7 linked regions of the Homo sapiens genome follow. The protein of the gene in region 5 purifies or fractionates together with the protein of the main gene of each other region. This does not show direct contact. Each region holds a gene or a part of one and is shown on either strand. Other genes may lie near its edges.

What was found.
Region 1: the proteins of SMYD3 (region 5) and OSBPL5 purify together in Homo sapiens (co-immunoprecipitation; one large-scale study listed by IntAct). This does not show direct contact.
Region 2: the proteins of SMYD3 (region 5) and MAGED4B purify together in Homo sapiens (affinity purification with mass spectrometry, with the first as the bait; one large-scale study listed by BioGRID). This does not show direct contact.
Region 3: the proteins of SMYD3 (region 5) and FAR1 purify together in Homo sapiens (co-immunoprecipitation; one large-scale study listed by IntAct). This does not show direct contact.
Region 4: the proteins of SMYD3 (region 5) and AMY1A purify together in Homo sapiens (affinity purification with mass spectrometry, with the first as the bait; one large-scale study listed by BioGRID). This does not show direct contact.
Region 6: the proteins of SMYD3 (region 5) and ALDH3A2 purify together in Homo sapiens (affinity purification with mass spectrometry; one large-scale study listed by BioGRID and IntAct). This does not show direct contact.
Region 7: the proteins of SMYD3 (region 5) and UBE2R2 purify together in Homo sapiens (affinity purification with western blotting, with the first as the bait; one study listed by BioGRID). This does not show direct contact.

What each region holds. Positions count from the first base shown.
Region 1 is NC_000011.10:3,086,607-3,089,458, forward strand, and holds the end of OSBPL5 (oxysterol-binding protein-related protein 5), read right to left. Parts: intron 1,738-2,852; coding exon 1,599-1,737; 3' UTR 501-1,598; downstream 1-500. UniProt on the Homo sapiens protein: Lipid transporter involved in lipid countertransport between the endoplasmic reticulum and the plasma membrane: specifically exchanges phosphatidylserine with phosphatidylinositol 4-phosphate (PI4P), delivering phosphatidylserine to the plasma membrane in exchange for PI4P, which is degraded by the SAC1/SACM1L phosphatase in the endoplasmic reticulum.
Region 2 is NC_000023.11:52,061,327-52,063,755, forward strand, and holds the end of MAGED4B (melanoma-associated antigen D4), read right to left. Parts: intron 2,425-2,429; coding exon of another isoform or gene 2,377-2,424; intron 2,148-2,376; exon of another isoform or gene 2,021-2,147; intron 1,776-2,020; coding exon 1,661-1,775; intron 1,339-1,660; coding exon 908-1,338; coding exon of another isoform or gene 904-907; exon of another isoform or gene 896-903; intron 713-895; coding exon 703-712; 3' UTR 501-702; downstream 1-500. UniProt on the Homo sapiens protein: May enhance ubiquitin ligase activity of RING-type zinc finger-containing E3 ubiquitin-protein ligases. Proposed to act through recruitment and/or stabilization of the Ubl-conjugating enzyme (E2) at the E3:substrate complex.
Region 3 is NC_000011.10:13,710,168-13,713,667, reverse strand, and holds part of FAR1 (fatty acyl-CoA reductase 1), read right to left. Parts: intron 2,976-3,500; coding exon 2,798-2,975; intron 1,905-2,797; coding exon 1,860-1,904; intron 1,741-1,859; coding exon 1,622-1,740; coding exon of another isoform or gene 1,613-1,621; intron 703-1,612; coding exon 635-702; intron 1-634. UniProt on the Homo sapiens protein: Catalyzes the reduction of saturated and unsaturated C16 or C18 fatty acyl-CoA to fatty alcohols. It plays an essential role in the production of ether lipids/plasmalogens which synthesis requires fatty alcohols.
Region 4 is NC_000001.11:103,654,474-103,658,559, reverse strand, and holds the start of AMY1A (alpha-amylase 1A precursor), read right to left. Parts: upstream 2,801-4,086; 5' UTR 2,632-2,800; intron 2,276-2,631; 5' UTR 2,230-2,275; coding exon 2,062-2,229; intron 1,717-2,061; coding exon 1,570-1,716; intron 767-1,569; coding exon 569-766; intron 121-568; coding exon 1-120. UniProt on the Homo sapiens protein: Calcium-binding enzyme that initiates starch digestion in the oral cavity.
Region 5 is NC_000001.11:245,853,280-245,856,779, forward strand, and holds part of SMYD3 (histone-lysine N-methyltransferase SMYD3), read right to left. Parts: intron 1-3,500. UniProt on the Homo sapiens protein: Histone methyltransferase. Specifically methylates 'Lys-4' of histone H3, inducing di- and tri-methylation, but not monomethylation. Also methylates 'Lys-5' of histone H4.
Region 6 is NC_000017.11:19,662,251-19,665,750, reverse strand, and holds part of ALDH3A2 (aldehyde dehydrogenase family 3 member A2), read right to left. Parts: intron 2,419-3,500; coding exon 2,252-2,418; intron 804-2,251; coding exon 704-803; intron 1-703.
Region 7 is NC_000009.12:33,897,160-33,900,659, forward strand, and holds part of UBE2R2 (ubiquitin-conjugating enzyme E2 R2), read left to right. Parts: intron 1-3,014; coding exon 3,015-3,112; intron 3,113-3,500. UniProt on the Homo sapiens protein: E2 ubiquitin-conjugating enzyme that accepts ubiquitin from an E1 ubiquitin-activating protein, and catalyzes its covalent attachment to other proteins by an E3 ubiquitin-protein ligase complex.

The sequences.
Region 1 (2,852 bases), on a different chromosome or scaffold from region 5:
CCCTTTCATCACCCTTGTCCTCTGGTTGCTGTGAGGGGTGGGCTGCAGTCTCCCTCTGCTGTCACTTGAGGCCTGTGGTCAGGTGCCCCCACCCCGCCTTCAGGGGCACCCTGAGCAGGCCCACTCACTGGCCTTGGTGTCTGAGTACCAGGGGTGGTGGCCACAGTGGAACCGAAGCAAGGGGCAGCGGGCCAGGTGGTCCAGCCAGGGGGGGTCCCCTTCAGTAACTGGCAGCATTGGCCTCAGGGGCTGTGCCAATGCCCCCCAGCAGCCTCTGAGGTGCCTGGAGTGCCTGTGGGCAGTGTCACTCTGTGTCCCCCACTGGCTCATTGGGTGATGGGACGCCAGCCTCCCAGCATTTGCTCCACAGGGCGGGCAGGCTGCCCACAGCTCCCTGTGAACTCTGCACCCTCCTCCCTCCCGGGCCCCTCCACCCAGCCCCACACAGCTCCATGCTGGCCTTGAGTCTTCCTGGGAAGCCCTCCTCTCGTTTCCAGAAGTCCCGCAAGAAGAGAACACGTATGTGTCTGTTTATTTCAAGGTGTGGAACACAGACACATCCCCAGATGGGGGAGGAGGGGAGACAAGGACACGGGTACAAAAACTGGAAACAAAGCCACCCGCTACAGCTCAGACGGCACCGCCACGATGTGGTTTAAGGCTCTGTACGTATATATATGTGTAGAGGCTCACACACGCGCACACGCACACGCAGAGCGGCACTGACACGGGGACTGAGGCCAGACGTGAAGGCTGACTGCAGCTCGCAGCCCACCTAAAATATTGCAATTATGTTTATTAAAAAAGTGTAAAATGGGAAGACTGTGCATCGGTCTGAGTAAAGTGGCGAACTTGAGCCTCCCCGGCCTGGGTGCGGGGCCAGCTAAGCCACACCCCTGCGCCCCCCACACCCCTGCACACACCTGCACCCACAACCACCTCCACCTGCGTGTGCCCCCACCAGAGCGAGCGTCCAGGTGTGGGGGTGGGGTGGTTCCAGGACCTGCCTCTGTGGGGCTCCCATCCAAACAGCACAGCGTGGAATAAAAAACCAAAATGCCTTCCCCAGAGTGGCCCTAACCTGTCCCTGGCACCCACCAGTGGCCCCACCAGGGTGGTCCCGGCAATGTGGACAGGGTCTCCGGAAGGCAGGCCTATGCATCTGTGTGTGGGGGGACTCCTGGGCCACTCGGGGCTCCTCCAAACCTGCCCACTCACTGCTGCTGGGGTGTGACTGTCCAGGGCCCCCACAGGCCCTCCCACCCTAAATCCATCCATCCCCCATGGCAAGTGGAGGCCGGACAGGGGGTGACACGGCAAGATGGCCAGGAGTGCGTCGCACAGCAGAAGCTGCATTTGGCTTTAGCATTAAGGCCAGCGCTGGGCGGAAGGCCCTGCAGAGAGGCCAGTGCCCCTGAGAGGGGCCCAGCACACCTGGGCCCGCAGCGCCTTGTGGCCCCGGGTCCCTCCTGCGCCTGGACTCCCCGTCACAGTGGCTGTGCTTGCCGGGCCTCTCTGCCTCCATGGAGCAGGCTTAAAGTGCTGGGTGCCTGGGAGGGAGGGCTCAGGACCGGCCAGGAGCTCTGCCCTCAGGGCTCCTATTTGAGGATGTGGTTAATGAACAGCTGACACGCCAGGAACACGCAGAGCAGGAACCAGGATCGGGGGCTCTGCAGGAGGCCTGGGGTCGGTGCCTGTGCTGCCCGTGCCGTGGAGCTCAGCATGGCCGAGAGGTGCCTGCAAGGACAGGCGACAGATCGTGGGGGCTGTGCCAATGCCAGCAAGTCCCCCTCCCACAAGCCAGGACAGTGCCCTGGGTACTTGACCAGGTGCTGGACACAGGGCCGAGGTGGAGATGGGATGGCCCTCCAGGGGCAACAGAGCGGGTGGGGGTGGAAAGCTTGTTAGTGGGAGGGCCCCACAGCACCATGGCTATACTGGGATTCCCTGGGCACATTCAGGGCAGAGGAGGGTCAGGGATTGGGGAGTCAGCCTTTTACATCCTCCCTCCCACCCCTGTGGTTATGGCTGAGTCATGCCTCTGCCACCTTCATATGTTGGAGTCCTAACCCCTTGCACCTTAGATAAGACTGTATTTGGAGATGGGGTCCTTAAAGAGGTATTTATTTAAATGGAGACCATTAGGGTGGGCCCTGGTCCCATGGGACTGGTGTCCTTATATGAAGAAGAGATGAAGACACAGACACAGCGAGAAGCTGGCGTCTGCCAGGCAGGAGAGAGGTCTCGGGATAAACCAGCCCTGTGGCACCGAGATCTTGGACTCCAGCCTCCGGGACCGCGAGGGAGTAGACGCGCTGTCCGAGCCCCTTGCCGGCAGTACTCTGCTGTGGAGGCCCTGGCCCTGAGCTGGAGTACTTTGCCGTGGAGGACCTGGCCTCTGAGGCGGTATCCAGTTTGCTGCAGAAGCTTCTGGCTGAGTCCTGGCCACCTGCCTGACAGCTGACCTGCTTCTGGGGAGCCAGGCCTCCCTGCTTCTCTGCCCACACAGCCTCACCAGGGAGCACCTTCTGGAAATGCTTACACAGGGACAATGACAGTTCCCCAAGGCTCTTGAGCCTCACAGAGCCCGGGCCTGTGCCCTGGCTGCATTTCACCCTGGGGTACTGCTATCAAGCCCACTTTACAGAGGGGAGGCTGAGGTGTGACAGCCAAGGTCCCACAGCCAGTGAGACCCTCAGCCTGGCTCAGAGTCAGGAGCTTTGGACCCGAGAGGGACCCTGTGCTCTGCTCCTCATTGGTGGGATCTGCTGACAGGAAGGGGCCATGTGGCCCTGGTGGCCTGCACCTGCCAGCTCTCGGCCACTCCCATTTGCTCCTTCCCCAGCCATTCC
Region 2 (2,429 bases), on a different chromosome or scaffold from region 5:
TTCTACCCACTGGAGGGCTGCGAACATCACTGCGGGGCCCACCTCATTGTCCGTCAGACTCTGTACCGAGGACGGGGTCCTGAACTGTGTGGATGATGAGCCAAGGGTTCCGGAACATCATCTCCAAGGAGGGGGTGTGGGAGGTGGGTCCTGGTGAGAGCCTTGGACCCTGTCCCTCGGCGGGAGGGGCAGTGGCACCAAGCTGCAATTTTCCACCCCGCCCCTGCTGTGGCCCCGACTCTTGCCATGTCCCTGGGGCTGCTGAGCAAGGTTTGTAGAAAATCACATAACGATGAGCACTGGGGCCTCTCCAAACTCCTGCTCACGCACTCAGGCGTAACCAACCTCCGCACCTCCCAGCATCCCACCTGTCCCTGTGGGCCTTTTTGGCAGAGGTGGGGCCCACCTACCCCAGAGAGCCTGAAGAAGTTTCCTTGCTACAAGCCCAAGCGTGGCCAGGTATAGCAATGGGTGTGCAGGTAAAGGAAGAAACATCCAAATTAATTTTGCAACTTTAATGTAACACTGATACCCAAAACATGAAAACACAAGGAAAAGCACAAAATGAAAGCAGGAAGAGCAAAGAGAGCTTCATCTTGCATGCCACCTCCGACTGACAGGAAGAAGCCGCCTAGGGTGCTGTGTCGAGAAGGAATCTGAGAGGAGGCGCTCTGGCTTGGCCAGTAAGATCGCTGCAGTTCGTCAACGGTGCCTATAAAAGCACAAGAAACCAAAGTGACAACATCCGTGGACACACGCGAACCAGGGAGGGGTGTACGTAACAAAATAAGTGTCCGTCCATGCTGTTGCCGTTGCCCCCAGCGCCCCCACCCTGGCCCTCCCTCTGACATCTCACCCCCCTCCGCAGCCCTCCTGCAGAGTCTCATTTCTCTACCGAAACTCTTACTGGATCCAGGAGAAGAAGCTGGCGCCAGCTCTGGCAGCATTTCTGGTCCGGATGGTGGAGCTGGTGCTGGGGCCATCTAGGACGCTGGTGCTGGCCCCTCCATTGGTGCCACTGCTGACGCCAGCTCTCCACGTGGCCCTCCTGTTGGCACGGTTGCTATTCAGAATGTACTGATGGTATCTGGCCCAGAAAGCAAAGGGGATCCTGGCCCAGGCATCGCCAAAATCTCCGTCCTCATCCCAGGTCAGGAGCTCGACTTGTATGTCATCCCAGCTCCACCGTCCAATCAGCGCTTCATCCCCGATATTCATCTGGGCCCTCATCTGGGCCCTGGCATGTTCCTCGGCCATATCCACATCCATTGTCTTGAAAGCATCATCCACAGCCTCCAAGAAATGAGCCTTCCATTCCCGGGGGTCTCGGTTCTGATTCTGAGGAGGAAAAGGGCAGGCATAGACACAGAGCTACCCCACACTGGCTGAGCACCCGCGGCCCGCCTCACCCCCTCCCGTGTGCTTTGTGCAATGATGGCAAAAATCAGGACCACAGGGATTGGGGGCTCCTACTCTCCTGTGCCAGACCTGGGATTTTGCCCCATCTGTGACCTTGTGTAGGGTGCTCAGGTGCCTCTGTGAGTGTTTGGTACCCTCACTGGAATACGGGGTAATGGGAAGGAGGCCTCGACCAAGAAACAAGCAAGGTGTGGAGAGCACCACCCCCGGTGCCGGGCACCCAACAGAGGCGCTCCCTTACCTGGGCGATGAATCTCAGGACCCTCATCTTGCTGGTCTCATGGCGGGCTCGCAGGCCCCAGAGGAATTCATACTCAGGTGGGTTGCTGTTGGGGATCTTCTTGTATTCCAGGTACCTTGGCATGAGAGGAAAGTAAACTTTGCTGCTAGCCAAGCAGACCTGTTGCTGAACGGATGGGTTCCAGGGGGCCCCTCCTCAACCCGATGCCGCAGCTCAGCTCCTGGAAGAGGACTGTCCTGCCCCTCCAGCCCTTCACTCATTCCCAAACCCACTCCCAGGACTTCTGCCTGCAAAAGTGAGGCCTTCAAAGCCTTTTGCCATTGGTCCTCCCCGGAAGCCATGCGGAGGTGCAGGGGGTCCACATGTAGGGCATTTGTCTGTAGGGAGGCCACAAGTTTGTGCCCCTCATCACGATGACCCCAGCTTCCTGTTGGGTGTGTTGTAAACAGAGGAGCCATTCTTCAGGCCCCCTGCTCTGAGCACACCCCACCTCGAGGGTCTTGGCCACACCCCGGCGGAGCCCTGGAGAGGCCCACCAGAGGAAACGACTGGAGAGGAAGAAACAGTCAGCCAGGAGAAGCGTGCTCCAGGCATCCTCCTCAAGTCCTGACCCTTTGTTGGTGTGCATGCGCGCCTGTGCGTTGGCAAGTCCTCCAGGGACGGGGAGAGGGTGGCCCCTGGCCTGAAAATCAGGAGAGTTGGGCTGAGGCCCTTACCAGCTGGGAGCCATGCTCAGAGGCGTCTCCTCTCTGAGCTCCGGGTTCCTTAG
Region 3 (3,500 bases), on a different chromosome or scaffold from region 5:
CCTATCACTAAATCAATGCCAAAAAAATTTTACTTTAAATTTGAACTCATCAACCAACAATTTAAAATTGACTCAATTTCAATGGGTTTTAACTATTCCTATTTAAGTTATGCTATTCCTATAGAACTAGGAACATGTATATCTGCTGTGAATCTGTGAATTTAAATAGATTAATACAGGTTAATAGAAAATATTCTGGCAAACTGTATCCTACTTCCTAACTCCTTCATTTATTACTCTGGGTACCACTTGATATACCACCTCTTGTAAGAAGTGATACTGCCTATGGATAGGCAACATCAAGACTGAGGGTGCTCACAAGGGAGAAAAAAAGCACTGTTCCCATGCCATAGGTATCTACGAGGGCTACTGCAGATGGCAGGAGAAAAACAGCAAGGCTTAGACAAGGGTAGGGTGGGTGGGTAAGAATAGACAGCAGTATATTTTTAAATTTGTGAAACATTATTAAGGACCACAAGGTAGTATTGGTAGATAATACTTCTAAGACGACAATTAAGAACAAATTGGTAACTCAGTGGCCTTAATGCCTCATAGGTATTCTAACATTAAAACTTCAGGGAACTTGGTTCTTTAAGATTTATTCTAACATTCAAAAACACAGGTAAAATCATACCAACTTCACCCCAGTGGAAAGGATTAGTGCTGCCTGTTGTACAATTATACACCATGATGTTTCTTGGTCTGCAAAGACAAAGATGAAACCAATTAATCATAATAAGAGGCCAAACATATCCAATCTAAGTCCTACATAGTATTCAAGAAGACATGAGGATGATGGGCACCTTTTCTATACTATTTTTTTTTAATTATCCTTAAAGGATTAGTTTTTACTTTAATGACTATTTACAACTACCCTTTCTTCTTCCCCTACCAAAAATAATAACTTATTTTAAAAAATACAGACTTTTTTCTTTCACATTTTTCCTCCTTATATTAGCAGGAATGTCTATTTTTAAACACGAGGAAAACAACAAATGACCTCAGCTCTTCTTGTCTCATTTTCAGAGGATCTAGCTGAAAAAAAATTATGGACTAAGTTTCCTTTTGCCAGAAACAACATATTCATATAATCCTATCTCTCTTTTTTTAGGACAGAAAATACTGATTATCAAAAATAAGGGTAGTTTACTACCTAGAAAAAAAAAGTTATTGGGAAGTTTAAAGTTTAAGTGTTACCTGTAAATGCTACTATTATTTTTTAAAGGAAAGATGTTCATGGGCTGATTAAAGCTGCTCTGGTGTACCATGTTTAATATATGTAAACCATATTCTGTGAATTTCAGCTCTTTATATATTCAACAAGTTTTAGTTTGGATTAAAAAATCATGCTTAGGGGAGGGTATTTTTTTTTTTTTCATTTTTAAGTGAACTTGTCTATCCTGTAAGTAATACATGAGCATTAACATTAATTCTTCATTACTACTGATGGGAGCACTTGCTATTGTCTGTGATAATACCAACTCTTGGAGTTGGCAGTGATACAGCCTAAATATTGGTATGGCAATATCTGGATAGAGGGATTAATTAACATTACTCAAAAGCTATGTCTTCCCTTTTCAGTTACTATATATTTAATAAGCGACATTGTCACCTCATATACCTATTAACTCCGGAATACCAGGCTGCCGCAAGACTCATGTTGACAACTACATCTACAGGAACAAGATCTGCAAGGGCATTGTTGGAGGCACGTATTGTTCGAAGAATTCCTTTCCCTGCCTTTGTTGAAATTAAAAACAACACCTTAAGATATATAAGCCATAGTGTATATATATTTAAAGATATACAAAAAGCAGAAAAATGTATAGAATATTAAATAAATCAAAAGGTTTACTTACCGCAATAAAGAGACCACTTGGTCCATTAAAGTTATCAATCCATCCCTAATACCAAAAATTTTAAAAGGGAGAGAAGCTTAGAAACATTATGAAGCTAGAGATTTATTATTTGAACTCTACAACCCCAAATATATACTTGGTAGCTGTCTTCTAAAAACTAAAAAACAGACTAGATTCAGGCCAGACTATTTCTACCAGTCCCAAACAGAAGCAGTCTTCCTCTGGGATCAAAAATAATTGAGTAAAATCATTTTCAAAGGGCTACCTACTACTCTTCCATTAACTCTCTGCAAAGAGAAATTTATAAAAGAGGGTTTATATTGTTGAATATTTTTACAAAATTAAGCTTGTTCAAGTTTGATTTTATGCTATTTACTAATTCAATAGCCTGAGATTAGGGAAAATGGTAAATCCTCCTCAAAATTATGAATAAAACAGAGAAAAATAGAATAATTGTCAAAGCAACAACAGATGCTATCACTTACTACCATTACACAGACCTAGGTTTTGCCTAAATCAATTGACCCAACTGGTTTATATTTCTGCTTTCTCTCATTCCAGGAATTCACAAATACCCTAACACCCTGTACCTTTTTTACTTTGTGATCTACAGAGGAAGGGGTCTACCTCCTGGAAGGTCTGCCTCTTTTTGCTACTAAGAAACAAACCAAATCTCCTCTGACTTAAGAAAATGTCACAGCTTTTAATTTTCACTTAGGATTTTTTAAATGTTGATCTACATTTCTATATACCCAGCGTCACATTATAGAAATGAAAGTACCAATAAAATTAACTCTATGAACACAAAACAGCTTTGCCATGGTAATTCACCTTTAGTAAATAATACCTGTTCTTAAAGAACTGCCAGCTCTTTTTATACAGAGTTACAACTTAAAATTCTCAACTCCAGTTATTTATAAAGGTTTCTAACAACTTACTGGAAAAGGTTCTTTCCAACTGGCACCAACAATCGATGGCCTTACAATTGCCACATTTAGTTTTGCTCCTTCTTGTTGTACAACATATTCTGCCAATGCTTTTGTGTATATGTATGTATTAGGTCTGTCTCCTATCAATTTTGGCGTGATATCATTTACTAGGCCATCATCCATCCACCTGGTAAAGAAATTGCATACAAATATATTTCCAGATATTTTACTATAAAATAAAAAGCTACTTAATTGAACTTCGCACATTCAAACATATCTGCTGTTCTGACTCAAATCATTTGACAACTTTTACTGAAAAATGGAACTTAGTCTTATTTTTCTTAAACATCAACTACAGGTCCACAATCCCTTATCTGCAATTTCTGTATCCAAAAAGATCTGAAAACTAAGAGTTCTTTCATAAATCATACAGTGGATAGCAAAATCTGATCTACACTGACTTATGGTCTTTTTTTTGATACAACTTAAACATTCATATATTTTACATGTATTTGATCAGGGATACTAACCCAGATCAAGTTAAAGTTTTTTCTTATTACACAGTACATAAATTATATACCCTCTCTAAAGTCCAAATAAATTCCAAAATATATCTGAAACCTTCTGGAAGTTTGCAGGTTAGGAAATACAGATCTGTATATAACCACCTAATGAAGTAACATGTTAATTATATACAGTTATAATTAACATA
Region 4 (4,086 bases), about 140 Mb from region 5:
AATTCTGAACCCTGCAACACCAATGTCAATGAGATGGTTCATATATTCGGCAATCTTAGAACGCACATAATCCTTCCCCAGTGCAAGATCGAGAAGACCAGACAGACGACAATCTCTGACCTGTTGAGGTAAGAATGTTATGATTGATTAATAAAACCTCACTTTTCGCCTGAGAATCCATTTGATTATTCATTTATTCCATGATTCCTCAAGAGATATTCTATGGTGACTTCCTTGCATTGGACACTGGGGATGCTCACATTCTACTATAGATGTATCTTGGAAATATTTTCTAATAGAAAATAGAGAACTTAGGAAATAAAGTCGATGAGTTTTTCAATTGGTTGGGAGCTTTTTAAAAGTGGACAAATGTGTATTGATTAAAAATCTTAAATCAATATTTAAAGGTTTTCAAATATGGATTTGAGTTTCTTAAAGTAGTCAAACTTGTTAACCTCTGTCCCTAAGAGATCTAAATTCATATTTACAACGAAGTTCAATTAGCTACATGTCTACAACAAAAGGCATATATCACTCCTTATTCAGATCACTCTCGTAAAAAAATTACCTGAGTAGCATCATTATAGTTCTCGATATCTCCACTTCCAGTTTTACATTTACCATCATTAAAATCCCATCCAGAATATGGGACTGCTGGAAAGTCCCTACTTCCAGGGTTGAAGTAACTTCCACAGGTACTGCTTGTTCCTGCACTCACAGCATTACCACACATATGATTAATTACAGCATCCACATAAATACGAACCTAGAAAACAAAGTTTCTAATTCAGTGTGACTTACAGAGAGGCAGAAATTTAAAGAATTATTGATTAAATTTATAGTGTGCTAATAAAATTCCAAAATATTTCATACCTTATAACTATTTTCCTACAAGATCAAAAATCAACTGTGAAAGGAAAGTAATGTGAACTAAACACCTACATTCATTCCAGACACTTGGCCAAATATATATAGGAATGATAAACTGAGAGAACCGGAAACTACCATAAATAGGAGGAAAGGCAAAAAGCCCATTTTGGGGAGACACAACTCAGATGAGACTGAAAAGGTTACTATTTGGGAAATTTCAGTGGGTCACCAGGAGAAAGCCTGTACTCTCTACTAAGCTTGGAAGACAAATAAGGTAGCTATTCATCTCAAATTCTGCTCCTCATTAAATAGATAAGCTACCTATTCACCACAAAAAAAACCCAAGAATTAGGAATGGAGACACAAGTCATCTAAAAATGAGAGCAAATATTGTAACTGGAATTAAAATTCCTCACCAGAAAATCCTTCCAGGAAATATGGATAGTTATAGCGGTTAAAATTTGATGTTTTGCTTCAGAAGTAAACTCTGCTATAAACTTTAACTTATCTCTTTAGTAGAGAGCACATATACAAATATTTTCAAAAATTGAACATAAGGTGACAGTTACTTTTGAGTTTTAAAGTATGAAGTAAAATTAAAACTGATATGGAAAACTTTCTGCTCAAAAGGAGCAAGAAAGAAGAGACAGAAATCATTTTCCTATCTGTTATTTTTAAAGGAAACTAGAATTCACTTACCCCAACATTGTTGCATCTAGTCACCATGTTTCTAAATTCATCTTCATTTCCAGATCTTGTGCATAATTTATAGCTAACTGGTTGGTATCTTTCCCACCAAGGTCTGAAAGGGTTGTGAATGGCAACATTTTCATTTGGTGGAGAGACCTACAAATTAAACAGTCTTCATAAGTACCAAATTCTGTCTTACTGTATATCATTGAATGTTCTAGAATCTAATCAATAATACAAAAGATTCTTGAATCTTGGTATAGGCAGCTATCTCTTGAAAATATTAACAGCACATCGGAGGGCTCTTGTTGAAGAAAGATTATATCAGAAACAAAATATACAGTTGCAAAGAATACTACATTGTTTTTTCCTCAGAAAATTCTTTTACTTAGAATACTTACCTGTGAAGTAAAATGTTGCCCAAGCTTCACGTAGAAGATCAGAATAGTGTTTACTACAAGCACAGTGAATTCTGCAATTGATACTATGAATCATACCCACCTGAACCCCTCCAAATCCCTTGGGAGCTAAATATCGCTCACATTCAAGAGCAATATCAACCCATCGCCATTCAAACAGATGAACAATAGATGTTCGTCCTTGTTGTGTATTTGAGGAATACTGAGCCCAGCAGAACCCAATGGTGAAAAGCAACCAAAAGAGCTTCATTTTGCTTTGAAGTTGTCAGTGTCCTTTCCAGAAACTATTTATATTCCTGTAAGAAGCACATTTTACAATGTAAATAGTAGCATGAATAAATACTTGAGGGCAAACTGTTTATTCATAATCTGAAAAGGATTATCAATAATAATCCTAACTGGTGAAGAACATCAAAAAGTCTCTCATGGAAATCATCTCAATGACCTCTTAGACATTAATGTTTCTTTTCTTTTCTTTTTTTTTTTTTTTTGCATATGGTAGCACTTTTATTTTTCCTTACACAATGACATGTTGCTGTGGCCTAATGTTCTCACATAACAGCAGAAAACCAAAATTTGTTGTCAACTCTTAAAAGATCGAGAATTGCATACTAAAAAACTTTACATAAATTAAAAGGATGAATACATTTACCGGTATAAATGCGAACCGCTTCCAACTCAAGGCAAGTAACAGCCCACGGTGCTCTGGTAGATAACGTAAGCTAAGAAAGGAAACTGGGTCCTATGGCTTGGACTTTCCAACCCTGACAGACCGACAAGACGGAAACAACTGGTTCAGGAGCCCTTCCCAGCCTCTAGATAAATCTCAGAACACTCAGCCCTGACACATTAATACCCTGCACGGATCAGAGACTGCTGACCACACAGACTCACCAAGCCAGACTTGTCTTCCACAAGCACGTTTTTAGCCATGAAGTGACCAAGCCACGTGTACTAAACACTGACATCAAAGGTATGTACAGATACCAAGGGGAAGAGTTAACTTGAATGCCAGGCCAAAATCAGCAACAAGTTCTACAATCCAGTGCTGATATTGAGAAGAGAGAAAGACCCTGTCCTCTTGTTTTATATTGTTTTCTATTCAGTAAAAACAACAAGGAAGCAAAATCAAAGGCACAAAACCAGGCCTGGGCCTGGTTGGCCTAAACCCAGTAGTTACAAATCAACTTATGATTTAGAAGCCGATGTTATTCATAGATTCCAGACATTGTATAGAAGAACATTGTGAAACTCCCTTCCATATTCTGTTTCTCCCTGACCACGGGTGCATGTAGTCCTTGTCGCATATCCCTGGCTTGTTCAAATCAATCACGACCCTTTCATGTGACATCTTTAGTGTTGTGTGCCCTTAAAAGGGACAGAAATTGTGCACTTGGGGAGCTCGGATTTTGAGACAGTAGCTATCCGATGCTCCCAGGTGAATAACACCCTTCCTTCTACAACTCGGTGTCTGAGAGTTTTGTCTGCCGCTTGTCCTGCTACATTTCTTGGTTCCCTGACCTGGAAGCAAGATAACTGATGGACGGCCGAGGCAGCTCCTTAGGCAGATTAGGCATGCCTTGTGGAGTAAGGCCGGGGCATCCCTCAGGCTGCCAGGGACTCTGGCCAGCCTGAGGGATGGGATCCAAAGAGCGCTCCCAGGTAGGAAATGGCCCCGGTTGAACGCCTCGCCAGAGCAGTGATCCCCGCGGAGGATTAACACAGTGGCTGAACACCAGGAAGGAACTGGCACTTGGAGTCCAGACATCTGAAACTTAGTAAGACAAGTCTTTTCAACTTGCCCCACTCCACCTGAGCGGAAGCTTGGCCTGATCGCTCATGGTGTGCCTGCACCCATATCAATTTCCATATAGAGATTCCTAGTTACAGCTAGTTTTAGATCCTCTACAGTGGTAAAAGGACAGGCAGCAGCAGTAGTAGTAGCAAAGGGACATTTATTTCAGGAAAGTTCTCGCTCCACCGGCCAAGAGAAGCCAGCACCTAAAGTTCTGTTTGACCCAGAGCTCGAGGACTCAAGGCAGGAGATGGCACCAACAGTGCCCTCAACCCCTTATCCAGTGGGGAGGCCCCCTTCTCCTGAGCCCAC
Region 5 (3,500 bases):
CCAGCCTGCCCTCTAGGAATGAGCTTCGTTGTCAGAGACAATGACACAAGCGTCCTCAGAGAGCAAGCTAACAACATCTGAGCAACAAGGAGAGATGCGGGATTGGGAGAGGCAGACCCAAAGCAAGCGCTGGGTATGTGACGGCATCGAACGCGCGCTCAGGTCCTCCCACTGTAATACGCACCTGGGATGCGGGGTCAGGAAGGCAGGCCCAAAGCAAGCGCTGGGCGCGTGGCTGCACCAAACGTGCGCTCAGGTCTTCCCACTATAACATGTACCCGGCAAGCTCTGCAGACTCCTGTACCAGAATGTCACACTGACAAAAACCCATGAAAGAACAACTGGAGTTCTTCAGAAAAGCCTGCTTGAAAACAGTAGAAGGTACTGTTATGAGGAAATCTCATAGTTTATCAACCTATCTTCCAAACCTTCTCAAAAAAAGGAGAAAAAAAAAATCCCCCGCAAAATTAAAAACGAATGGGGCTGCTATGTAATTAACTGACAATCTCTCAGTTACAAACCCCTGATTTGTAACCATGGCAGGTACACAAACTACCAGCTGCATTATACTTCCACTCTCTCCACCTGCCCCCATTTTTTCTGACAACAAAGCACAGAAAACTATCTGAGCTGAAATCTCACTCTTATCAGCTTTCTTCTCCTTGATGGAGATTTCATAGCCCACCTCCCTTGCCTCTTTCTCTGATCACAACTTAAGTCTCTTCATCATTCTTGTTCTTCTGCCTTTTTCCCAGGTACGTCACAAAAGTGTCATTCCCACCAGCACAAAAATACTATTTATGGACAACAAAATTAATATCAACAAATCTTACCCTATAATGTGGGCTTTGATGAAAGAAGAGATGAAGGCCCTAATACGTTTTGAAATGGCTTTAGATCAGAAACAACGGAAGTCAACGTCATCTCTTCTCATATTTTCTTGAGGAAAGAGTGACATTTTAGTGTGTGTGGTGGGGGAGGTACAATTTGGAAATGGTTATCCAAATTTAAAATAAATATAACTTTCACTTTAAGAGCAGGGGGACCTAACTTTTGATGTACCAAGTTACCACTTAGGAATTTCTCATGTGGATTTACCCTATGGATTCAATTAATCATGGCACTGTTTGACACAGTACACATAAATGGAAACGACAGAGATTGATCTAAAAATTATGGCATATCCATGAGATGAAATACTATGTATCTGTTAAAAAGAATAAGGTAGCTAATCTGGAGCTAATCTAGACAGATGTCTACACTCTCTTGTAAAGTGAAAAAAGTTACAGAACATGGGCTAGGGAGTTATCCTTTTCTCTCTCTCTCTCTCTTTTTCCCGCACACTAAGGAGGACCTTTGGCTTGGCTTCCCTTCCTTTTCTCTAATCCCCACTCCTCCATACACCACCTCAGCAGGCATATTTAAAAGACCTATTGGAAATGAGTCTTTCCCCCAGCAAGACAAGCAGGAAAAACGCAGAAGTGCAGGAGAAAGTGGAAGAGCCCACGTGAACAGTTCTGAAGGGAAGAGAGTTGAGAGTAACTGGGAAAGCAGAATAAAAGGAATGGGGGAAGCAGGGCTTTAAAAAAACATTCTGTGTATTATGATGGAACCATTGTTCATGTTTTCTGGCGAAGGTTAGGATTACTGTTTACTTTCAATCCTCTGACACCATGCTAAGACGGAGGTCTATCTGGCTCTGGAATATATTCAGACCGGCCACTCTCACACGGAACATTTCCAGAAGGAAACTTTTAGCCATGTTTATCTTTAAGGAGTGGGACAACAGTTTGAAGATGAGGCTGATTTTTACCTTTCTGTCCTCTTAAATTGTCCTTCCCTACAAGCATATGTTAATCTCGCAACAGAAATGAACAGAACGGGCGAATGTCCTGAAAGTCCTCTTCAAAGCCGGAAACACCCTCTATATCTCCTTATCACTCTCTAGTTCCGAAAGAAAAGTCAAATTTAATTAATATTCGACGCACAAAAATTTTAAAACAATGTGCTCAATTTTGTATTTTTCTCTCCGTTTTTAGGGGCTGGGGGGGGAATTTATAGCCCATACAGTGGTGCTATCAAAGGCTGAGTAGACTTTCATGGGTTAGTCTGGAGACATCACCATAATCTGTAACCATCTTTAATAGGAAAATGCATCCCAAGTTCTGAACTACTAATTGGCGAATTAACATTAGACTAAGTTAAACTTTTAAATAAAATTTATGAAGTATTTTAAAATTATCTTCATTCTACTTCCTGTTTACAATGCTAAGGGACAGATGAGTTTCCATATTAGTCACATATATATGCCGATACTATCAGAAGACATACTATGGGCTAATACTAAACATTATACATTTTGTTGTATGTGATTTCTAACTTGTTTTATGAAACATGAAGGATGTAATGTTGAGTTGCGTCATAAAAACTGAGTAAAATCTATTGAGTAAAAATAAATGAGAGTAGCAAGAAGGGAGCTGAAGGCCATAATTTGGATTAAAATGGAATAGCAGCACTTTCTCCTCTAAGGTCAGCAATTAAAATTTAGCCAAGGTCAGGAGTGACAAAATCATCAAGAAAGACTTGACCTCCATCTAGTTGTTGCAAACAATATATTAACATTGTAAAACTGTTACAGCAGATGGCAATGCAATCATCCCTTGGTAACTCATGCCTAGCTAACTGTCTGTGTCCTTGGCTAAAGGTGAGCAAAAGGCCCACCTCCTGCGTCTGCAGGGAGCCGATGCGGGGGGCTGAGAGCACTCAGTGTGAATTCCCTCATGCACATGTGAGAGGTGAAAACCACTGCCAACTTCTCCATTCCTGCCTTTGTTCCAAAATTGCTAACAGGGTTGCAGGGTACCTGACCTATTTGCATACATTCCTTATTTTTACCTCTGCCTGAGCTAAAGGGGAAAAAGGCAAAGTATGACAACATCTAACCTGCCCATTTCTCTCAACTTTGTTGGTTCTGGTTTATTTATAGCCTTTTCCTCAACTACAGCTTTAAAAGCAAATGATTCGTACCTCACTCATGTGAAGTGGATCAATGCAGATTGGATTTCTTGAAATACCACCAAAAAGCAACTCAACACACGCCAGGGAAGAGAAACCAAGGGAGGCTTGGAAATTTGTCACCCAGCATAAGAACACAGCACACACTTAAAGAGATTGTGACCTGCCAAACACCATGTAAATATAACCAAACGTTTCCCAAACATAATGGACTGTATTCTGGTGGAGGACTTGGCCTCACTTACAAGAAAGGCCTCTTTGTTTAAAGTCAGTCAAACTGCCAGCTACTTAAGGTGTAAGTTAGTGCCTCAAAGAGGCCCTGGTAGATGTGGGGAAGAGAAGGTTGCAAAATACGTGCAGAACAGACACCCGTGTAGGTGTGTGGTCTTCTTTATGGATGTGGTGGACCCATGTAAAGTTTCTGTGCTTAAGAGTGGCCCGAGCAGGGCAGCCTGAGTGTCGAAAGGGAGGATGAGGCAGAAGAA
Region 6 (3,500 bases), on a different chromosome or scaffold from region 5:
CTAGCCTAGGTCCCAAAGGAGAAATAAAAAGCTGAGTCAGTCATCTCACATGTGGGAGAGGCAGGCAGGTCATGTTCTAAAGGGAAAAGCAAGGATCAGGCTATGTCCACAAAGCTTCACTTGGAATGAATTTCTTTCTGCCCATCCTCTCTAGAACAGGGGGAGTCCCGTTTTACTCAAATCACAAAACAATTCAAGGAGAGGCTGCTCCTCCCAACAAAGGGCTGGGGAACAATGCAGGTAAGAACTGAGCAGAAAACAAAGGCACATTAGAAAACCCCTCTACCTTCTGTCCCTGGTATTCCGAACCTTTCATTTGCTACTTCATTAAACACACACACCACACACACACACACACACACACACACACACACGAAGAGAGATCTTCTTAATTAATTTGAGACCTGATTCTTGGTTCCCAAATCTCCTAAATGTGGCAGGATAACAAAATCAACGAAGTGAACAAAGCTGTGGTCAGTCAGTGCTGCTGACAGAAAGAGAGTGACAAGACATTTGCCCTATGCTGGAGGGGTGGGTGGGGAAGCAGGAAAACCAGTCAACTGGGTGACCAGGAAAAGGTCTCCCTCAGGAGAGGACAATCAGGGTACGCAACAGCTGGCTATTTCAGCAGCCCATACAATCCACTCATGAAATGGTGGTGCTTTTGAAATATCTACTACAAGCAGGAGAAAATAAGACTCACCCACTCCTCCAAATGGGAAAGAGTTGAGCGTGAAGTGCATAATGACGTCATTGCCTGTGACACCTCCACTGGATGTCTCATCAATCATCCGTTTGATGAGCTGAGGACAGACCAAAGGTGTCCAGGTCAGTGAAGTTGCCCCTTAGGGAACACTCATGGCCCCACCACACAGAGGGCTGTGTGCTCAGTTATGTGCTCAAAGCATGCACATTCTGGCTTTGTGTCAGTGAAAATTCTCGAGTTTGGGGACACCATGCCAGATAGACAAACAATCTCAACTGGTTAATTTAGCAAAGTGACTGATACCCAACTTCTCAGACACACATCTAGTGCACAAAAGGAGGCAGCTCCAAACCTCTGGGCCTACTCAGCCACAACCTGGAGTTGTACTCCCCAACACAGCAGCAAAAGACTCTTTAAAAGGGGACAGCTTAGACTATATTCCAGCTTTAAAAACTGTTATTATTTCTTTCTTATCTCTGCTTTAAATTATAACACATGATTAATAGGTATTATTTAGTCTTTATGAAATGTAAAAATATTTAAGACTTTAGATTTAGCATCCTATTTTTTAAGAAATAAATGGTTGTTTGGCCTAAGGCTCAGAAAAGCACAAGAACACTTGACTAGTAAACGTCATTTACCCTTGGGTGCCAGCAAGCCCTTGACAATTGTTCATGGCAAACGTCAAGTCTGGACTATAGTGACCTCGGGTGACCCACTGCTGGGAAGTGCTCCACACCTGACTTATACCCTGGCCAGCCTACTTTCGGCTTCAGGGTTCCTTCCTGCCCACATTATCCATGGTTTTAAATGTCAAACCATTGTTTTGTTAATAACCCAGTCTTTACTGAGCCCCACACATTTGGTCTCACTTCAAATACCTGTAGCTATCTGTATCTCAATAGTCTCACAAGCTCCAAAAGCTGTCACATGACTATCTATACATTACCATCAGAAGCTCTCCAGAAAACATTTGGGCCATGGTCTCTTAGTAGCGGCTGGTCACCTAGTGACATGAATGAGTGAGCCATGCAGAAAGTGGCAGAACTGCTCAACCAGGTGATGCAGTTCCACCACTCTAACAAGAAGCTAGCGTCATGTTAGAAACTAAAATCCATCATATCACAACCATTTATGTGACAGTGTCGGGGTCTTTGTCCCACACAGTGGGTGTGAATGCCATTTTGTGCAGGCTGTTATTCAGCAATGCCCTGTGGATTAACATCAGAAAAGCATTTAATGCTGGCACATATAAGTCTTCCAATTATACAGGAGATGTTTGTGAATCAAAAACCTTGTGACACTCAACCCTGCAGACTCAGATCTAACCCGAGGGAGGAGGGGAATGGATGCTGTGATAACCCCAGAGTCTCATTAACCAAGACAGCAACCTCGGAACACAACCTCACTTAGTGGATGGACTCTGACATGACACAAAAGAAACCATCATTGTTTCACATTGTTTTTTGCATTGTTTTACAGCAAAGAAGGAACATGACTCTTGACAGTTGCTTATGCTAACTAGCTGTTCTCTCTAAAGCTTACCTTATGGTTATGCGAAAATACATAAAGAGCCAGAGGCTTTTCACGTTCATTTATGAAATTTATGGCCTCATCTACATTTTTCACAGGCACTATTGGAAGAATTGGTCCAAAAATTTCTTCTTGCATCACCTTGGTTTTAGGATCAACATCGGTAAGTACTGTTGGGGCTAAAAAGAAAATAAACAAAATGAAAATGCTTATTAGACAAAAATGCACAACTCTCATATTACATCTCTTTCATTGGGTCACTTATCCATGCCTTTCCCTCTCCCACCCAAGTCATATCTATTGAAAAATCCTGAGCACGTGGATGAACTGTGCACATACTCAATGTCTCCAAAGCCTGTGAATCACAACCCTGCGGATACTTGTGCAAACCAAGGGAACGATACACACTCAAATATATCTTTTTCACATTGAACCCTGTTCACAGCCATGCATGTATTTAACTGTAGATTATACTTAACATTTTTCTGTGGACAGGTTTTTTTTTTGAGATGGAGTTTCGCCCTTGTTGCCCAGGCTGGAGTGCAATGGTGCCATCTCGGCTCACTGCAACCTCCGCCTCTGGAGTTCAAGTGATTCTCCTGTCTCAGCCTCCCGAGTAGCTGGGATTACAGGCATGCACCACCACGCCCGGCTAGTTTTGTATTTTTAGTAGAGATGAGGTTTCTCCATGTTGGGTCAGGCTGGTCTCGAATGGACAGGTCTTTCTAGGAGCAAAGACAGCTCCTCTGTGAATCAAATCAATACTATTTTTCTTAACTCGAGTGCTTTCATATATATGATCTCATTAACCTTTATTATAACTCTGTTAGACAGATTAAGAAAACAGACTTAAATGGTCAAAATTCCCTAAACCTTAGTCCACTGTTCCATCTACCATGGGGAAGAGGCACAAGAAAGGAGGGTGAAACAGATGCTGGGGAGGCTAGACAAAGTGTCCCAGCATCTGCTGCCAATGTAAGTCACCAACTAGCAGTACTCCAAAAGATGCTGTAAGTAAGAAACTGGCTCGTCAACCAAAAGAGAAGTCATCTGACAATAACAAGTTGGCACTTTTCCTTTACCCCCAGTTTCTAATAGGTTATCTTGGCAATGTGGCTGGGGACAGCTTCTTGCAGCACCACTTCCAGGGGGTATATAAACTGCCACTCCAAATCCATTGCCCACATCTTCCTCAGGTCAGAGAAACAATTTGGGCTGAGTGTCTACTTCCTCTGCATAGCCATGCTCAGGTAAGATGATC
Region 7 (3,500 bases), on a different chromosome or scaffold from region 5:
CTGAGTAGCTGGGACTACAGGCGTCTGCCACCACGCCCGGCTAATTTTTTGTATTTTTAGTAGAGACGGGGTTTCACCATGTTAGCCAGGATGGTCTCAATCTCCTGACCTCGTGATCCGCTGGCCTCGGCCTCCCAAAGTGCTGGGATTCAGAAAAACTCTTTTTTTTTTTTGGAGACAAGAGTTTCGCTTTTGTTGCCCAGGCTGGAGTACAATGGTGTGATCTCGGCTCACCGCAACCTCCGCCTCCCGGGTTCAAGTGATTCTCCTGTCTCAGCCTCCCGAGTAGCTGGGATTACAGGTGCGTGCCACCACGCCCGGCTAATTTTTGTATTTTTAGTAGAGATGGGGTTTCATCATATTGGTCAGGCTGGTCTCGAACTCCTGACCTCAAGTGATCTGCCTGCCTCGGCCTCCCAAAGTGCTGGGATTACAGGCGTGAGCCACTGCACCTGGCCAGAAAAACTCATTTCTACATTTCCCATAGGTTGTTTAAATTGTTATTATTAAAGGAAAGCTCATCTCAAAGCTTCCTCAACAACAAAGCCTTTTATCTTCCACCCCACCTCCCACGCATTCACTGCCCAAATATACCAAGTTTCTCTTTTCTTTTTTCTTTTTTTTTTTTTTTTTGAGATGGAGTTTTGGTCTTGTTGCCCAAGCTGGAGTGCAATGGCACAATCTCGGTTCACCACAACCTCCACCTCCCAGGTTCAAGTGATTCTCCTGCCTCAGCCTCTCGAGTAGCTAGGATTACAGGCATGCACCACCACGCCTGGCTAATTTTGTATTTTTAGTAGAGATGGGTTTTCTCCATGTTAGTCAGGCTGGTCTCGAACTCCTGACCTCAGGTGATCTGCCCGCCTTGGCTTCCCAAAGTGCTGAGGTTACAGGCGTGAGCCACCACGCCCGGCTCTCTTCTTTTTGTTTTTTGTTTTTGTTTTGAGATGGAGTCTCGCTCTGCCGCCCAGGCTGGAGTGCAGTGGCGTGATCTCAGCTCACTGTAACCTCTGCCTCCCGGGTTCAAGGGATTCTCCTGCCTCAGCCTCCTGAGTAGCTGCGATTACAGGTGCCACCACGCCCAGTTAATTTTTGTATTTTTAGTAGAGATGGGGTTTCATCATACTGGCCAGGCTGGTCTTAAACTCTTGACCTTGTGCTCTGCCTGCCTCAGCCTCCCAAAGTGCTGGGATTACAGATGTGAGCCACCATGCCTGGCCTCTCTCTTCTTTTATCTGTAGTAACTTTTTACATGCCTTATGGTATCTAACCATAAGGCAGTGTGTTAGAATATAATATTTTGTATTAATTTTATTTTAAAAATATTTTATATTGATAATGGTTACATATATATTCATATAGTTTCTATGTGTCTAAATTTGGGTTGTATATGTAAGATTTTTGCACTTTATATAGTTATACCTCCAGTTTTTTAAAAATATAAATCTTAAGTCGTGTGTGGTAGCACACCCTAGAGTCCCAGCTATGGGACTACTGAGGTGTGAGGATCACTTGAGGCCAGGAGTTAGTGGCTGCAGTGCACCATGGTTGTCTTATGCATAATCACTGCACTACAGCCTAGGTAACATAGTGAGACTCCCATCTCTAAAGACAGAAAGAAGTTAAATAAATAAATAAATCTTACCTTCCATGTTAGGCTAAGTCCAAGAGATAAGTCACTGTATTTTACCTAACTTTATCTTTTCTATTGAATTGTGTTCTGTATTGCACATGGTGGGCAATCCATATGTGTATGAATTAACCTAAATGTACTTGTGGATTAAGTTGTGTTAAGTTTATGAAGCAAAATATAATAGCCATAGTGGGAAGTCATTCTAACCATACCTTGAGGATGTTAACATTTGCTGCGAGGCATATTTTTGGTTTATATAAGTCATGGTTATTGACATAGCATCTATCTGAGTAGATATTAAGCAAGGTTAGATATTTTTTCTTCCTTTTTATGTACTCTAGGTACACAGATATATCTGAAAACAAAGGGATATATATTTGGCTGCTTCTAAGACAATTGAGTCTTGATTTATTATGTTTGTCTTTTTTTTTTTAAGATGGAGTCTCATTGTGTTGCCCAGGCCGGAGCACTATCTTGGCTCACTGCAACCTCCGCCTCCCGGGTTCAAGCGATTCTCCTGCCTCAGCCTCCTGAGTAGCTGGGATTACAGGCGCGTGCCACCACGCCCGGCTAATTTTTGTCTTTTGTTTTTGTTTTTTTGAGACGGAGTCTCCCTCTGTTGCCCAGGATGGAGTGCATTGGCGCGATCTTGGCTCCCTGCAACCCCCACCTCCCAGGTTCAAGCGATTCTCCTGCCCCAGCCTCCTGAGTAGCTGGGATTACAGGGGAGTGCTACCACGCCCGGCTAATTTTTGTATTTTTAGTAGAGACGGGGTTTCACCATGTTGTTCAGGCTGGTCTCGAACTCCTGACCTTGTGATCTGCCCACCTTGGTCTCCCAAAGTGCTGGGATTACAGGCGTGAGCCACCGCGCCCAGCCAATTTTTGTATTTTTGGTAGAGATGGGGTTTCGCCATGCTGGTCTCAAACTCCTGACCTCAGGTGGTCCACCCGCCTTGGCCTCCCAAGTGCTAGGATTACAGGCGTGAGACACCGCGCCCAGCCCCAGTCAATTTTTTATCAGGATTGTACTATAGGAATAGTAAGTCTTCTCACTAGAAAATATACCTTGGAGATTGGTCGAAATAAATATTATATTTTAATGTTCCTAAGTAAACATAGGGATCGTTTGTTTCATCAGGATTGTTCTATAGGAATAGTAAGTCTTCTCACTAGAAAATATACCTTGGAGATTGGTCAAAATAAATACTTTTAAAATGCTTAATTATTATTTATCTTTGATGTTGAACATAAAAAGCAGAATTGTTTTCTCCTTTGATGAAGAAACAGTTTCTAGGAATAAAGGAAACTTTAGAACCGATGTCCCTTTTTGTACATCACTTTTTGAGTATTTACTGAATGTAATGTTTGTGTCTTGTAGAATGGAGATGTATGCATTTCGATTCTTCATCCGCCTGTAGATGACCCACAGAGTGGAGAACTGCCTTCTGAAAGGTGGAATCCTACTCAGAATGTGAGGTAAGGAGGAATCTGGTTTTGGAGTTATTCTTAATCTCCTTATTGTCTTTGCTCCTAGTAAAATAAAATTATGTATTGTCTTTTAACATGTAAAAAATCATCTTTCTTATATTCAGTTTCTTTGTCTTTAGCTAGAGCTTTAAGAAATATGTATGCGTCATTTTGAAGAGCTGTATTTACTAAACAATAATGTATATGATTCTCATTTCCCTATGTTCACTTAGGAATAGATTTTCAAGCCTGAATCCCTACTCTTAACTTATCCTAGTTCTACTCTGGTTCTTTATTACCACCTAACATTAGTGTCATTCATTGGTTGCAGTTAATAAACAATGTTAATTCATTATAAGTAACTGAAGTCCATACGCTTTCACATTTCCTTTGTTTT